Regions from separate parts of the Homo sapiens genome. Here all the other regions are linked to region 3. Evidence: fine-mapped expression QTL. A gene starts in region 3. Each other region holds a variant in brackets. All regions are shown on one strand. Distances are from middle to middle. Region 1 overlaps MCU (mitochondrial calcium uniporter). Region 2 overlaps MICU1 (mitochondrial calcium uptake 1). Region 3 holds the start of DNAJC9 (DnaJ heat shock protein family (Hsp40) member C9).

Region 1 (2,500 bases), 490 kb after region 3:
CTAATAAAAACACAAAAAATTAGCCAGGTGTGGTGGTTCACACCTGTAATCCCAGCACTTTGGAAGCTGAGGTGGGTGGATCCACTTGAGACCAGGAGTTCGAGACCCACTTGGGCAACAAAGCGAGACCTTGTCTCTACAAAACATGTAAAAGAAAACAATTAGCTGGGTATGGTGGTGCACACCGGTAGTCCCAGCTACTCAGGAGGCGGAGGTGGGAGGACTGCTTGACCCTGGGAGATTGAGGCTGCAGTGAGCTATGATCATATCACTGCACTCTAAGCCTGGGTAACAGAGAGAGAGACTCTGTCTCAATGAAAAAAAAAAAAAAATGGTTTCAATTGGGCTAATATCCCTAAAGCAAGTACTCTGGCACAACCTTTGAAAACTCTTATCTGGCAAAAACAACAACAACAACAAGGGTTGAAGAGATGCCATATTTAGATGATCATTTATCTATTTATGCTTCCGCCGTTCAAATTGCTTTGAATTACAGGCTACAAGTGCAAACTCATAGTGATCTAATATTAATAACAATAACAACAGTTAGCACTTAAATAGTACTTAATGTATTTACTATATTTATGCGCAAGGCACTATTCTAAATGCTTCATGTATTTAACTCATATAGTACTCACAACTCATTGGATAGGTATAATTGTTCCCCACTCTACCATCAACATTACACACCAGGCTTAAAGACATAAAGTAAATTGCCCAAGCTGGCCAGGTGGGGTGGCTCATGCCTGTAATCCCAGCACTTTGGGAGGCCAAGGCGGGTGGGTCACCTGAGGTCAGGACTTCAAGACCATCCTGATCCACATGCTGAAACCCCGTCTCTACTAAAAATACAAAACTAGCTGGGCATGGTGGTGCATGCCTGTAATCCCAGCTCCTTGGGTGGCTGAGGCAGGAGAATTGCTTGAACCCGGGAGGCAGAGGTTGCAGTGACTGAGATCATACCATTGCACTCTAGCCCAGGCAACAAGAGCAAATCTCTGCCTCAAAAAAAAAAAAAAAAAAAATCTCAGGTTCACATATCTAGTAAGAAATAGCTAGAATTTGACCCCAGGTAGTCTGAGACTACAGTCCATGCTTTTAACCACTATACTTATTATATTCCCTTCCTAACTTGATCAAGGTCACACAGCTAACTAGGTAGTGATACCAGGAATTCAATACAAATCTTGAGCCACATAAAAACACAGTTTGTTATGAAATATGTGAGGTTATAACTCTGTAGAAGTGCTAAGAAATCTTTAACATCATCTGCAAAAAATGTCTGCAAACTGGGCAGTATGGGACTTGAGTGTCATTTGTTGGGCTTTTTGTTGTTGTTGTTTTTGAGGCAGTGTCTAGCTAAGCCCAGGCTGGAGTGCAGTGATGCACTCATGGCTCACTGCCACCTCAACCTCCTGGGCTGCTCATGCCTGTAATCCCAGCAGTTTGG[G/A]AGGCTAAGACAGGTGGATGACCTGAGGTCAGGACTTCAAGACCATCCTGATCAACATGGTGAAACCCTGTCTCTGCCTCCCAAAGTGCTGGGACCACAGGTGTGTGCCAACATGCCTGGCTAATTTTTTAATTCTTTGTAAAGACAGGGTCTATGTTGCCCAGGTTCATCTCAAACTCCTGGGCTCAAGTAATCCCCCTGCCTTAGCCTCCCAAAGTGCTGAGATTACAGGTGTGAGTCAGCATGCCCCGCCTCCAGTGTCATCTGTAATTCAACCAACCTGCATGATACATAATAGAAGGAGGAAAATACTGATGATCAGAAAATCTGGCTGAAGTCTTAACTTTGCCATTAATTGGCAGCATGCTATTAAACAGAATATAAGCTCCGGACTCAAATAGACCTGGATTGAAATCTGGGCTTTAAGACCTTTGGGTAAGGGTGGCTCAGTTTGTGCACAGTACAAAGGCATCAAGGAAGCAAAATAAGGCTGAAATTCTGCCCATGTTCAGCTCACAGATGCTGAAATAAGTGGCATCTAAGCACAGGTCCCCAAGTTACTGCTTCGGGTGGTGTGCCAGGCCAGAGGAAGTTTGGCTTCCTCATTGGTTCACCACAGGGGGTAACTTTCCTAATTCAAACAGAAGTCTCTCATAGCTAGTGGTGGCTCTGCCTACTCTGCTACTTACCATATAACAATTGCTACTTGCAATATAATCTAGGGTAAGTTACTTAATCACTCTAAACCTCAGTTTCCTCATCTGGGAAATATGGCTGAAAACAGTACTTACTTCATAGTGTGGGTTTGTGTGTGTGTGTGTTTTGTTTTTTTGTTTTTTTTGGACAAAGTCTTCTTGCTCTGTCACCCAGGCTAGAGTGCAGTGGCGTGATCACAGATCACTGCAATCTCAATCTCCCAGGCTCCGGTAATCCTCCCACATCATCCTCCCAAGTAGCTGGGTCCAGAAGCGCATGCCACCACCACACCCAGCTAGTATTTTGTATTTTTTATAGAGACAGGATTTTGCCATGTTGCCCAGGTTGGTCTCA
Region 2 (2,500 bases), 830 kb after region 3:
TATTTAGACCATGCTTATTTTTAAAGGTTGGTCCAGATATTGATTTGACTTTAATTATCTATCATGATAGGTGAATTCATATTTCATTGTGAGTTTACACTTAAAAGCAATAAGGGGCATTGGAGGCATCTCCCTTGAAGGAAGAGTATTTGAGCATTGGCAGGAGTTAATTTAGGATCTGAAGACCTTGCAAAAGAGCTCTAAAATGAAAGGACAAATTTTGTCAGATGATGAAAATCTGCGGTGTTAAATTACTTTTGGCCCAGAATTTCTAGCCTGTGTTAGCAACGAGATTAAGATTGATTGTCCTCTCATGTTGATTAAATAGTTTGTGAACATAGCAATTAACTAAAGTGAGTGTCAAGGAAGGGCCTTTGCTCCTAAGGTTACGAGTCCATCTCTCTAGGACCATTTCCTATAAAAGGGGAATCACCATCTGCTTTCTAATTGCTTCTTTTATTCCACTTTGGATTTGTTAACATGAAAATGTAAGTTTTCATTTGGCTGACATTAATCAGTTTCTGTGTGAGGTTCTGTATCAAGGTATCAAACAAGACCTAAGAGATTGAAGGTCCTAGTGGTGGTATTAAATTTTTGCATATAAATTAATGACCATGCAATGTTTCACAGCCATTTTTCTCTTCCTTTCTAACAGCCTTGTTAGATACTGTATTTTTGAGAATATAGAGACAGAAAGAGAAGTTAATAACCCATTCAGAGTCTGGTCTAAAATCCAAGGCTTCCTATTCCAGATCTTGTCTTTTCCTTAAGAAAGTGCTGTTTCTCCTAATCATACTCTTCCTGTAAAGCAGTGCTTCTCTACTATAGGATCACTTGAGGAATTTTTAAGGAATGTGGTTGTTTGGGCCCTCTTCAAATCAATTAAATCAGAGGCTCAGTAGGTGGGTCCAGGCATCAGTGTTCTGGGGTTTTCTTAACCCTCTGCATGAGAAATTCCAGAAGTGTTTCTTAAAGGGTGATATGGTTTGGCTGTGTCCCCACCCAGATCTCATGTTGAATTGTAGTTCCCATAATCCCCATATGTCCTGGGAGGGAACAGGTGGAGATAATTGAATCATGGGGCAGTTTCCCCCATCCTGTTCTCATGACAATGAGTTAGTTCTCATGAGATCTGATGGTTTCATAAAAGGCTTCCCCCTTCACCAGGCACTCATTCTTCTTCCTGCTGCCATGCGAAGAAGGATATGTTTGCTTCCCCTTCTGCCATGACTGTAAGTTTCCTGAGGTGTCCCTAGCCCTGCAAAACTGTGAGTCAATTAAACCTCTTTCCTTTGTAAATTACCTGGTCTCAGGTATGTCTTTATTAACAGCATAAGAACGAACTAATACAAAGGGTCCCCAGGTAAATCTAATGTGCAGCTAGGCTTATGAGCCACTGCTCGAGAGATGCAATGCTCCATCAGTGTCTCTAGCTGTTTTATCTCTAAGTAATAGTTTGAAGAACTGGGGAACCTGCCGTGCTTGACAAAAATTACTCTATTGATGCTCTGAAAAACCACCATGTTTTTATTTAACA[AAG/G]AGTTTTCTGAGACTTCATAAATGTAATTCACAGTGGTGATCCTCTATGTTTATGAATGCAGAAGCTACTAACTAGTAACTTCTTAAGGATGAAATTGAAAATTATAACTCAGTTCAATGGCAGACATTGCTGTGTGCAAGACACTAAGCCAGGTGCTGTGAAAAAGACCTTCCCTTATCCTTACAACTATATTTCTTTTTTTTTTTTTTTTTTTTGAGACGGAGTCTTGCTCTGTTGTCTAGGCTGGAGTGCAGTGGCCTGATCTCGGCTCACTGCAAGCTCCGCCTCCTGGGTTCATGCCATTCTCCTGCCTCAGCCTCCTGAGTAGCTGGGGCTACAGGTGCCCACTGCCACGCCTGGCTAATTTTTTGTGTGTTTTTAGTAGAGACAGGGTTTCACCATGTCAGCCAGGATGGTCTCGATCTCCTGACCTCGTGATCCACCCGCCTTGGCCTCCCAAAGTGCTGGGATTACAGGCGTGAGCCACCACACCCAGCACAACTATATATATTTCTTAAGTCTGTAATAGTCTAGTAAGAGAAAAATATGTATGCAAAGAACTCTGTAATTCTATATTCACATTTATATTCAATATTTATCGATCAGCCACTATGTGCCAAGCAGTCTTCTAAATACTGGGAATGCAGTAGTGAGCACACCAGTGTCTGCCTCATAGAACTTAGCATTCCTACTGGAACGAAACAGATTTTAAACAAATATAAAGCAAGGTAACTCACTTAGCTTTGAGCTTCTTGAGAGCAGTGCCTTATTCATCTTTGCATGTCCTCTGTATGGTGGCGGTAAATGCTTATCAAGTGCAATGATAAATATGTTGAGTACTCTATTAAAGGTATGAGATCTTTTTGAAGCACTAAGGAGGAAGATTAGAGCCAGCTGAAGAGACCGAGTAAGATTTCTTAGAGGAAGTACAATTCGAACTTGGCCTTAAACATGGAGTAG
Region 3 (2,814 bases):
GCAGGTAGGATTATCTCCGTTTTACAGATAGGGAAGCTGAGGCCTAGAGGTGGAAACTTGCCCAGTGATGTAAGATTCATCTCCCGGTTATGCCCTCCTGGAAAGCCCTTCCCAACATATTATGTTGTCCATAGAGGGAAAAATGAGCAAAGACAGATGGCTTAACTCTGGTGTGTGACTAAGATATAGGAAATTTATAGAGGAGGTTCTATCAATGTGCCGACTTACTTTGTGTTTTATGTTCTGAGAACGATTACCAGCCATCTCAAATTCTGTGGTTGTCAAAGCTCCCCTGGGGTTGTTGCTGGTTGGCCCCCACTTGCTTTGAGACTTTGATGCCAGGGCAGGTTGAGAGGAACTGACTTCAGCTGAGTTTGATCTTGGATCTGGGAAAGAGAAATGCTTTGAAAATCACGGCAACTCTGGGAAGTTTAAAAGATATTAATGTATCCTGGAGAGTTTGAGGCTTTGCAGAAACTTATTGGCAGAGCAGAATGATTCTGAAAAATGCTACATCAGTGAGGGGATATTTGATAAGGTATTTTCTGCCAACTCGGGTATTCACTTAGCATTGTTTATCCTTTAAGATATGTATACACATACTTCCTCTGTGAGTTTACCCTACTAACAAAGTTTTATCCCCAGCCTCAACCTTGCTTTGGGTCTCCAGGCCCAAGTTTCTCACCATCTCTTGGATGATTGCTCCAGCCCACTCTGCTGCCACCTGGGATCCAACATGTTCAAACCCAGCTGTGAACTTCACAGAGTATTAAAAGAAAGAGCCTTTGCTTCAGCAGTTTATGTTATTAAGACGGAGGCTTGGGTCATGTTATCTCTCTCCACCAATGTGTAAGGTGAAAGTCCTATTAGGTAAGAGTTTTTGGAAGACCCGTGTTTTGTGCTTTTTGGGTTTCAGTATAGGGTTTTTTCCTACAGGGCTAGAGGGAAAGTACCCCAGCATTTCCAACCAGTGGGGTGCAAAATTATTTGGGTCTACAGCTTTACCTATTCCTTTCAAGAACATTTTTGAAAAAACACATCTGTTAAGTTGAACCATGTGTAACTGCTGAATGCTGATGTTTGGCCGTTTTCTACTTAAAAAAATAGGCCAGCAGTTTGTAAATTCAAGCTAATATATGAACTTTTTGAAAAAGTTGTTCTTGGACACTAAAAGGTAAGACGGACGCCAGATTTCCAGAGCAAGGGGAGGAGAGACCCGAGCAACATCACTTCCCTGAAGACCTAGCTCCTGCGCGCGGCCGGGGACTGTGACTCCACATGCCGGCGTTACTTACCCGGGCCCGCGCCTGACTCGCCACACCTCATTTTGCGGCCGCCGTAAAGCGCGGATGCGCGGCGTGGCCACGCCCCTTCAGTGCTTGTGACGCAGGCGCCCTGGGCTTTTTGGGCGCGAAAAAGAAGCAGTCCTGGGTTGTACCCGGCGCAGCTGGGAGCGGCTGCTTCCTCCGGGGTCGTATCTCCGCCCGGCATGGGGCTGCTGGACCTTTGCGAGGAAGTGTTCGGCACCGCCGACCTTTACCGGGTGCTGGGCGTGCGACGCGAGGCCTCCGACGGCGAGGTCCGACGAGGCTACCACAAGGTGTCCCTGCAGGTACACCCGGACCGGGTGGGTGAGGGCGACAAGGAGGACGCCACCCGCCGCTTCCAGGTATGCAGGGTCCCGCCCCGAAGCCGACCGGCTGCGCGGGCCTCCCCCTAGCCTTTTGGCTACCGGGCCCCGCCCCGGGGGAGCGCGCTGAGCTCCGCTTGGCGCCTTCTGATCTTTATTTCTCGCGCCGCCGTTTCGGTGGGAGGAGCAGGGGTGATTTACGGATACTCTTTGCCCTCAGATCCTGGGAAAAGTCTATTCCGTTCTCAGTGACAGAGAACAGAGAGCAGTGTACGATGAGCAGGGAACAGTGGACGAGGACTCTCCTGTGCTCACCCAAGACCGAGACTGGGAGGCGTATTGGCGGCTACTCTTTAAAAAGGTAAAGGACTCTGGAGGTTTCTTTGTGACTGTTACCATCATTCAATCAACAAACCTTTATTGACTGCCTCTAAGATCTTGTATTTTGTGTTAATTTTGTAGGAATTAGGAATTTTGAGTTTGGCCTTGAAATACAGATACACGCACGCTTACTGAAACGGGCTTTAAATTTCCTGTTAATGTGATTGTTGCACTGAAAAGGGCCGATTTATTTTTTTTGCCGGATGCGCTTTATTTTACATATCCAAATGTAAGTCCTGATTCCGGATCACCTCTCACTCTTGGAAATTTCACTTAAATTTCCCTTCCCTGGTCCCTAGTTAGCAGTTAATGAAGATTGGATTTAAAAAGGAGGACTCCGGAGAAGCTTAGGCATAGAAAATCTGGTTCAATAATTTCAACTCAAGCAACTGTTGTATTGCAGCAATTCAACACCCAACTCTAGTTTTACTAACGTACGTTTTATTTAAAGTAAAATTCCCAAAGTTAAAGCAAATCTCCTTTATCATCAGATATCTTTAGAGGACATTCAAGCTTTTGAAAAGACATACAAAGGTTCGGAAGAAGAGCTGGCTGATATTAAGCAGGCCTATCTGGACTTCAAGGGTGACATGGATCAGATCATGGAGTCTGTGCTTTGCGTGCAGTACACAGAGGAACCCAGGATAAGGAATATCATTCAGCAAGCTATTGACGCCGGAGAGGTCCCATCCTATAATGCCTTTGTCAAAGAATCGAAACAAAAGATGAATGCAAGGAAAAGGAGGGTAAGATTTTGAATACTGTGGATTTATATTTTGACTGCTTCCAAAAAGGATTTGAGA

What was found. PIP is the estimated chance that this variant, and not a neighbour inherited with it, causes the effect.
Region 1: its variant is fine-mapped to the expression of DNAJC9 in whole blood (TOPMed, PIP 0.96).
Region 2: its variant is fine-mapped to the expression of DNAJC9 in whole blood (TOPMed, PIP above 0.99).

The regions. Positions count from the first base shown.
Region 1 is chr10:72,753,672-72,756,171 of GRCh38, reverse strand. The region is part of intron 1 of MCU (mitochondrial calcium uniporter); the gene reads right to left. LOC124902450 (a long non-coding RNA gene) reads right to left here. Exons shown (of 2, transcript XR_007062189.1): 1 at 1-2,500. Among named protein-coding and RNA genes, the nearest start is that of MIR4676, 34 kb to the right of the region's middle. The variant G/A (reference allele first, on the strand shown) is at 1,451.
Region 2 is chr10:72,416,709-72,419,208 of GRCh38, reverse strand. All of the region lies in intron 9 of MICU1 (mitochondrial calcium uptake 1), which reads left to right. Among named protein-coding and RNA genes, the nearest start is that of DNAJB12, 63 kb to the right of the region's middle. The variant AAG/G (reference allele first, on the strand shown) is at 1,538.
Region 3 is chr10:73,245,865-73,248,678 of GRCh38, reverse strand. It overlaps DNAJC9 (DnaJ heat shock protein family (Hsp40) member C9), which reads left to right and starts at 1,424. Exons shown (of 5, transcript NM_015190.5): 1 at 1,424-1,669; 2 at 1,851-1,991; 3 at 2,503-2,757. The coding sequence starts at 1,490. DNAJC9-AS1 (DNAJC9 and MRPS16 antisense RNA 1) reads right to left here and starts at 1,312. Exons shown (of 4, transcript NR_038373.1): 1 at 1,296-1,312; 2 at 229-386. RefSeq lists enhancers at 1,178-1,517, 783-1,982 and a silencer at 1,718-1,867.